2 linked regions of the Homo sapiens genome follow. The protein of the gene in region 1 interacts with the protein of each later gene in a pairwise test. Each region holds a gene or a part of one and is shown in the gene's direction. Other genes may lie near its edges.

Region 1 (4,424 bases):
GACACTGGACAATGACTGGAGTCTGGAAGCTTTGGAGAGCAACCAAGTTCATGTAAAAAGAAACTAAACAAAAAACTGCCCTTCTCCCAGGGGCAATAGGGAGTTCAGCCCTCCTATTCCTCTACAGGGAATAATAACATCAGCCATAGGATCCTGTCCCATTGTACCCATTAAAGCTCTTCAAGTGAGCCCATCCATGAGCCCCTGCCTTTAAAGAGCAGCCTCAGGATGGCACAGCTGTGACTGCCCCCTTGCTGTCCTGTGACTCACTGGGGCTCCTCAGCCCAAGCAGGGCCCTGGAAAGTTATTTTTCCATGCCTTTAATAGTACAGGCTACACCCCTGGGCCTCCTTCAAGTCTCTATCTAAAACAGCCGTAGGGCACAGTGGCTCATGCCTGTAATCCCAGCACTTTGGGAGGCCAAGGCGGGAGGATCTCTTGAGGCCAGGATTTCAAGACCAGTTTGGGCAACATAATGAGACCTTATCTCTGCAAAAAATTTAAAAATTAGCCAGGCTTGGGGGTGCATGCCTGTAGTTCTAGCTACTTGAGAGGCTGAAGTGGGAGGATCTCTTGAGCCCAGGAGTTTGGGTGAGCTATTAATATAATTGTGCCACTGCATTTCCAGCCTAAGCAACAGAGACCCTGTCTCTAAAAACAATAATAAAATAAAATAAAATAACAGCTCTAGGAAACCCTCTCTCATGCCTATGCCATTTTCTCCACCAATTCCAGAAACCTGGGCAGAGATGGCATGAAGGGTCTGTATCGACTGTCACTGTGGCTTCTCTGGTCCTGCAGAGGGGCCAAGGCAGAGTCCTGGAGACCCAGGGCTACGTGGGGACCCAGGATACTACCTTCAGCTGCCCACAGCTTGGCCCAGGTTGCCTCCTGCCAAGTGAAGAATGTCTCCCCAGGATGCGAGTGCCACTGGCTTTTAACTATAATATCAGGATAATTAAGCTTTTCTGTGAGCACAGTTTGCTGCTGATGCAGCTGCCTGGAGCCCTGGCATTTATTGAGCGCAAAGTAATAATTTATTATCCTTTGTACGCTCAAAAGCCATCTTCATTATCGTCCCAAGACGGAACTGCCACAAGGGCACGCGGGCCTCACCAGCTGCCTCACTCTCGGATGTCTTCCCAGGTCACCCTTGACGCCCTCAGGTACCAGGATTGGGTGGAGAGGGGTGGGGAAAGTGTTGCTCTTTCTCATGGAGAATCAGAAGGCTACAGTGAGCTATTAATTGAGGTTCCTTAGCAGGCCGTTAACGGGAAAGAGGGTGGCATGCTTGGCTGGGGGTGGGCAGCGCAGAAGGGCAGGGGCCGTGTGCCCACATGAGTAGGGCAGTCGCGGTGGAGCGGGAGCCTGGGCTCCTGCCCCTGGGTCTCTGCGCCTTTGCATGAGACTTTACGGTAAGCCGCTCCTCCCGCGCCCCCGCCCCCAGCCCCGCTCGGCGATCCCCGGCGCCGTCGCCAGGCGCTGGCCGTGGTGCTGATTCTGTCAGGCGCTGGCGGCGGCAGCGGCGGTGACGGCTGCGGCCCCGCTCCCTCTACCCGGCCGGACCCGGCTCTGCCCCCGCGCCCAAGCCCCACCAAGCCCCCCGCCCTCCCGCCGCGGTCCCAGCCCAGGGCGCGGCCGCAACCAGCACCATGCGCCCGGTAGCCCTGCTGCTCCTGCCCTCGCTGCTGGCGCTCCTGGCTCACGGTAAGGGACCCCGGCATCCGGCGGCAGGACGGGGGCGGGAGCGGGGCCCCAGGGGTGGGAAGGGAGACCCGGTGCCCAGCTTCGGGCATCTGGCTGCCCAGTCCAAGCACCGCGCCCCGCCGGCTGCGCTGCCCCCGGCGCCGGCCAAGCCGGGCGGGGCGCGGGCTTCGCGGGCGGGAAGCTGCCGCGGCTCCCGCCATTCGCGCCCGGCCGAGACCTCGTCTTTAATCATCTCCCCAGATCTAATGGGATTTCTCTGATGCAATTCATCACGCCACCCACTCCCCGCACACACGCGCTCACCCGCGCGCTACCTCGCCACACTCTAGGCATCTCAGGGTGCTGGGGCGCGTGCCGGGGGGCGCAAGGCAGTGAGTCGGGACGGTCCAGCTGGCGGCCCGTGGTCCCGCTTCCCCTGCCGCCCGCCAAACTTCGCTCGACTTTGCCGCCGGTTCCAGGGCCTCTAGTGTTCTTACTGAGGGGAGACGGGGCCGGATGGCGGCCGGACCCGGGGTTGGGACCTCGCTCACCTCCCCATGCCCTGGCGCTGCCACGCCAGAGTCGGGACCTAGAGCACAATTCTAGAGAGAAACTCCAAGGGCCTGGACCCCCTATCTGGCTCCTGGCTCTGCCCTCGGCTGCAGCAGCGGAGATCCTGGGATAGAGACTCTGTCCTCCCCAAAGTCCTTTCCTTGTACACACACACACACACACACACACACACACACACACACACCACTGCCCCGAGCTCTGCCTCCCTCCCGGCCTGCCTTCCTGCCCGGCCCTGGTCCACTCCCCACCTGCAAGGCAGATTTGTCTCTGGAGGACCTGTTCCCCACACCCTGAGAATCCCCGCGCCCCCTCTAGGAGTCTGGTCCCCAACTTCGTCGGTCTTGGGTAGAGGGAAGCTTGGCCATGGTGTGAGCGGCAAGGGAGTGTTGGGGAGAGGATAGGGGTTCCGTGCCTCGGGGAAGAGTCTTGTCTGGACCTGCCGTCCTGGCTCAAACAAGCTCTCATGGAAGCTACTGGCACCCACGTCCTTCTCCCGCTGCAGTAGGCTGGTAGGGTCGGCAGAACCGCACTTGGAGTTGAGACCTGCCATCCCTTGCCATATGGTTTGAAGGGCCTGATGTGAAGTGTGAGGGTGGGAGTTTCTAACCTCCCTGCTCGATCTTTCCAGGCCGCTGCCGAGGTCAAGGCAGCGCGGCCAGGGACAGGCTGGGCCCCCGGACGGCAGTTTTCTTCATCCAGGAAGAAAAACTGTGGCCCCGGAGACGCAGAAGCCTTTTTCTGAGCCTCTAGCTCCACTTGCACACAGCCCAGTGTCCTCACCCCGCTACCGGGCTGCCCATGCTGGATCCTCCGGCAGCGCCCAGAACTTGAAACCGTGTGCTCACGTTCTGGGGAGAGGGGAAGAGTCCTGCAAGACCCACCCCAGGGATGAAGACCGGGAAGGAGAAGTGTGAATCCCTGCCTAGCTGCCTGGGGATGTCCCTAGGAATTCCGAACCTATCTTGGGTCCTGATGGGTCCTGGCGCTGGACAGCTCCCCTGGGGCGCAGGGCCTGTGTCTGTCCCCTGGCAGTTAGTCAAGGCCTTGTGTGTGAGTTTGTGGGTCTGAATGTGAGAGTAATCAGGGCCCTGCATGACTAGAGGAGCCAGTCCCAGTGTGTCTGCACTTCAAGTGGTCCGAATCTTGGGTGAGGGGTCAGCAGTGAATGGGTGTGAGGACTGTGTGAGGCCACTAGTGTGTGGGTGCAGCCTCAGCCAGAGAGCTCCCTGCAGGGCTAGAGTGAGACTGTGGGAATCCAGGAGGAAGGCTGGTGTGGCCAGGAGTCCCACCAGCCCTGATGGGGATGTGGGTGTGAGTGTTAGGAGGAATCTGCTCACTCTGTGGCCTCAAGTCTGTGTGTCCCTGGGCAGTGTCCCTTCCTGACTATCAGGATCTCCAGTGCCCATGGAGGCACCTGCCAGTGGGATATGTGGGGTAGGAGTCTGGCTGTTGGGAAAGACCTCTATTTTCACTCCCCAAGGGAGACGAAGAGGCAGCCCCGAAGTGCCAAGCCTGAGGATGAGAGGGCTGGGATGTCAGAGCTGGGTAGCCAGAGGCTCCTCTCTCCTCGGCTGGACTGGAGGTCCCAACCATTGGGATAGTGAGTCATCTCAGTGGGGAGCAGCGCATTTGGCCATCCCGGGGTTCCTGGGCACTTTAGCTTTGTGAAGGCGAGCCTAAAGGAGCAAAGACCTCAGGCTATGAGCCTTTTCGGCCCGAGGGGTGCATCCCTCAGCCTTTCAGCCCCGCCACCTCTCTGATGAGGCCCTCAGAGCTTTGCTCATAGGCAGGATGCAGACTGCAGGATGTAGCCAGGCACGGCCCAGATGCCTTGGAAGGCCTGGTATGCCGAGGCTGCGGAGGTAGGGCAAAATCGTGCTGGGCTTGGCCCAAGCTCACAGGCTCAGTCCCCTATTCCCTTCTGCAGCCTCCAAGTCTTGATTGGCGTCAGGCATCAGGGGCGTCTTGGGCCACGGGGTATCTTCCCAAGCTGTGTGGGGTGCCTGGGCCATCCAGCCACAGTGGAGGAAAAAGCGGTGTTGAAGGGGCTGCGTGTGCCGAGCCTGCTGTGTCAGTTTAATGATTTTTAATGAGCAATTACCTTTAGTCATTCTCCTAATTTCTGAATATCAATAAAGTTAATTAAACTCTGCATGTGTGAATGT
Region 2 (3,804 bases), on another chromosome or scaffold:
ATTTTTGACTTTCTGTGCTTGGCTTATTTCACTTAACATAACGACCTCCATTTCCATCAGTGTTGCTGCAAATGACAGGAACTCATTCTTTGTGATGGTTGAATAGTACTCCATTGTGTATATGGATCACATTTTTAAAAAATCTGTTTGTCCATTAATGGGTACTTAGGTTGATTCCATGTCTTGGCTATTGGGAATAGTGCTGCAGTAAACATGAATGTGCAGATATCTCTTTGATATATTGACTTCCTTTCTTCTATATACCCAGCCCAGTAGTGGGATTGTTGGATTATATGATATTTCTATTTTTAGTGTTTTGAGGCATCTCCATATTGTTTTCCACAGTGGCTGTACTAATTTGCATTCCCACAAACAATGTACAAAGGTTCCTGAAAGGGTGAGTTTAAACAACATAACTGCAGAATCATAGTCATGTCTGACAAATAATGATATCTTGACATCCTCACATACGCACTCAGTGTTCAGATGAGCAGGGTCCAGTGAAGAGCAGCACATTCTCATGGTTGGATCTTGTTCCTCTCACAGCCTGTAGGCTTCCCTTCCTCTCTCTCATCTCTCTCTCATTTATCCATTCTATACTTGGATTTATTGTTGAAGAACTGTGTGGGGTTTCCCTGCACTTGGATTCTGCTGATGATGGACCTTTGCAAGTTGCTCTGACCTTTGCGTTTCTTGTGAGTCGGTGGATTGATCTAGAAGTGTGATCAGATTCAGGTTTGAACTTTTGGGCAAGGATGTTTTATAGGTGGTATTGCATTCTCCCGTTCAGACCCCTGCCTGGACTATACAGAGAAGTCGGTCTTTTAATTGCCTCATGTGTGTGAAGTCACCTTGGTGAGTCCCCAGCTGACCCTCGCCCATATCTTTTTCTCCTTCTGCTGGTCCGGGCTCCCCGCTTGTTCTGACATCACCCTGGCTACTCTGTGGAGAGTTGGTTCTGGGGTAGCCTGAGGAGGCAGCACTAGTAGCAGGGACACTGCTAGTATGTTGTGAGGAGGGTCCCAGTGGAGATGATGGGGCCTGATCCAGGTGGTGTCCAAGGGGTGGACAAAAGTGGGCAGATTCTGCAGCACCAGCCTCATCCTTATGAGAGAAGCTACTACCCCCTAGGCCTCTGCTTCTGTGTCTGCTTTTCCTCCCCGGATAGTGCATTTTTATATACCAGTCACATGACAAGCGTTTATTGAGTGCCTGCTGTGTACGTGGCTCTGGGAGCTTCTAGCTCTCCCCCACTGCTGTCTGTAAGTGAATGCACATGGCAGGAAGAGCAGCTCCATGATGGGCTCTGCCAGGTGGGAGCTTGGTAACTCCTGGCCTCTGAAGCCTGCCCATGAGGAGAGCCTTCATCTCCCCTGGAGAGGGAACAGCAGTTGTCTTTCTTTTGCTGCTATGTGACTGCATAAGAGCTGGGACACCAGCGCCTTCTATCCCCTCGGTCTGCCTCTGGCTGTGCTCCGGGTTACCCATACCCACCTCCCTACTTTCACCCGAGGCCCTCTGTGCTGCAGATGCCACTCACCCAGGCACAGTGCAGCCCAGAGTGCAGGGAGTACACATCTGGAGCACAGTGGCCAGTCTTCCTCAGGGGCCAGCCTGAGGCACTGTATCCCCCATCCCCTAGTCTATCAGGTGCTTGACTCTGGGAGGGGCCCCTAAGGGATTCGGGTCTCCCCAGCAGCGACCTCTGTTGTACCCTGCCTCCTACCCATGGCTGGGCGCCCGCAGCACCTGCACAGACTGGATCCACAGACACGCCTGCAAGGGAGAAGAAATAGTAGGTTACCCTGAGGAGCCATCCGTGGAGGTTGAGCGGCCTGGGCCCCCCACCCTTGCCTGGGTGTTAGAACTCCAGGTTTCCAATCTTACAGTCTCTTTTTTTTTTTTTTTTTTTTTTTTTTTTGAGACAGAGTCTCACTCTGTCGCCCAGGTTGGAGTGCAGTGATACGATCTTGGCTCATGGCAACCTGTGCCTCCCAGGTTCAAGCGATTCTTTTGCCTAAGCCTCGAGTAGCTGGGACTACAAGGCGTGTGCCACCACACCCGGCTAATTTTTGTATTTTTAGTAGAGATGAGGTTTTGCCATGTTGGCCAGGCTGGTCTTGAACTCCTGACCTTAGGTGATCTGCCCACCTCAGCCTCCCAAAGTGCTGGGATTACAGATGTGAGCCACCGCGCCCGGCCTCCCACCTTACATACACTCTGCTTTTGGTATAGACCACCGTGAAGGTTTTAGAAAGTGGTGAAGCAGCTAGAGAGTGGAGGGATGTGTGCAGAGGGCAGAGGCCTGGAATGTGGAGCACAAGGTTCCCAGGCTGAGGAAGCACCCACAGTGGGGCAGCAGAGGGGAGGCAGGAGGGCAGACTTACTTCAGAGGAGCCACAGGCATCGGAGGTGCCCGCAGAGGCCAGCGCCCACGCCTTACCAACAGGAAACCCTGCCCTGGGTCACACGGTGCGGCCTGGCAGAGCTCTGATGCGATGTCAGACTTCAGGGCTCCACCTCGGGTTTTGTTGGCAGCCTGTAGCCTCAGCCCAGTCCCATCTGCCCCTTTTTACCAAGAGGATCCAGAGGGCAGGTGGGCTACGCCCGAGCAGCCAGGGCACAAGGGGCCAAGTGGTATGGCCTCGTCCACACTGTCCAGAATCATCTCCCAGGTAGCAGTTTCCAATTCAGTTGTTAATTATGTATCAATATGTGGGAGATGAGATTCCTGGAAAGAGAAACTTGACACTAAAGAAAATGCCCTTTTTTTTTTTTCTTTTAGAGACAGGGTCTTGCTCTATTGCCCATGCTGGAGTACAGTGGAACAGTGCTAGCTCACTGCAGCCTTGAACTCCTGGGCTGAAGTGATTCTCCTGCCTCAGCCTTCTGAGTAGCTAGGACTATAGGTACACACCACCGTGCCTGGCTAATTAAAAAACAAGTTTTTTTTTAGAAAAAATTTCTGGGTTTTGCTATGTTGCCCAGGCTGGTCTTCAACTCCTCAACTGCATCAAGCAATCCTGCCTCAGCCCAGAAAATGCTTTCAAAAAATTGTTTTAAACATTTTAATTGAGGTGCAACAGACATACGAAGTGTCCATCATGTTGGTTTTGATCTGTGTGTATGCCTGGGTAACCATCACCAGGTCTGGATCTAGAACATTCCCAGGGGGTGCCTTCTGTTGGTCCTGGCACAGGTGTATGAGCTCAGCATCCACATCTCAGACTGCGCAGGTTGGGTTTGCTGTAGGCCACGTGCAGCCTCATCCCCTGCATGTGTCCCCTTGGCCAGCATGACGCAGCGCCAGCCTCAGGCCAAGCTCAGCACATGGTGGGAGGCAAGGGCGTGGAGCCCTCAGCCAGGGATGTGGGCTTTCCACAGCTCATCTCACTATTAGCCTGTTGAGGTCCCAGTAAGTGGCACAGAGAAGTCCCAGGATGGATGTGGTCAGTGGTGAGGAGGGCAATCCATGCCTGAGGGAAGGTGAGGAGTGAGTAGGTGAAAGGAGGTTAGCACCTGTACCTGGAGGAGAGAACAGCATGTGCAAAGGCCCTGGGGAGGAAGGGAAGGTGGACCATGCACCTGGATCCCAGGGAGCGATGCTCACAGTGGGATGATGGCTACAGAGGCCGGGGCCTGGCCTGGTCGGGCTTAGGACAAGAGGGCCTGGGGGGCCATGAGGAAGCTTGTCCCACTGTCTTAGGGAGATGGAGGCCTGGGTTGGGGGTGGCATGAGATTCCTGAGAGAGGAGGAGCAGCTGCCCAGGGTTACTCCCTGGACCACCACCGCCTCTGGGCCCA

Evidence for each region.
Region 2: the proteins of SEZ6 (region 1) and CHDH interact in a two-hybrid assay, tested with the Homo sapiens proteins (one large-scale study listed by BioGRID and IntAct).

The regions. Positions count from the first base shown.
Region 1 is NC_000017.11:29,003,098-29,007,521, reverse strand, and holds the start of SEZ6 (seizure protein 6 homolog isoform 1 precursor), read left to right. Parts: upstream 1-1,488; 5' UTR 1,489-1,652; coding exon 1,653-1,707; intron 1,708-4,424. UniProt on the Homo sapiens protein: May play a role in cell-cell recognition and in neuronal membrane signaling. Seems to be important for the achievement of the necessary balance between dendrite elongation and branching during the elaboration of a complex dendritic arbor.
Region 2 is NC_000003.12:53,836,174-53,839,977, reverse strand, and holds part of CHDH (choline dehydrogenase, mitochondrial), read left to right. Parts: intron 1-3,804.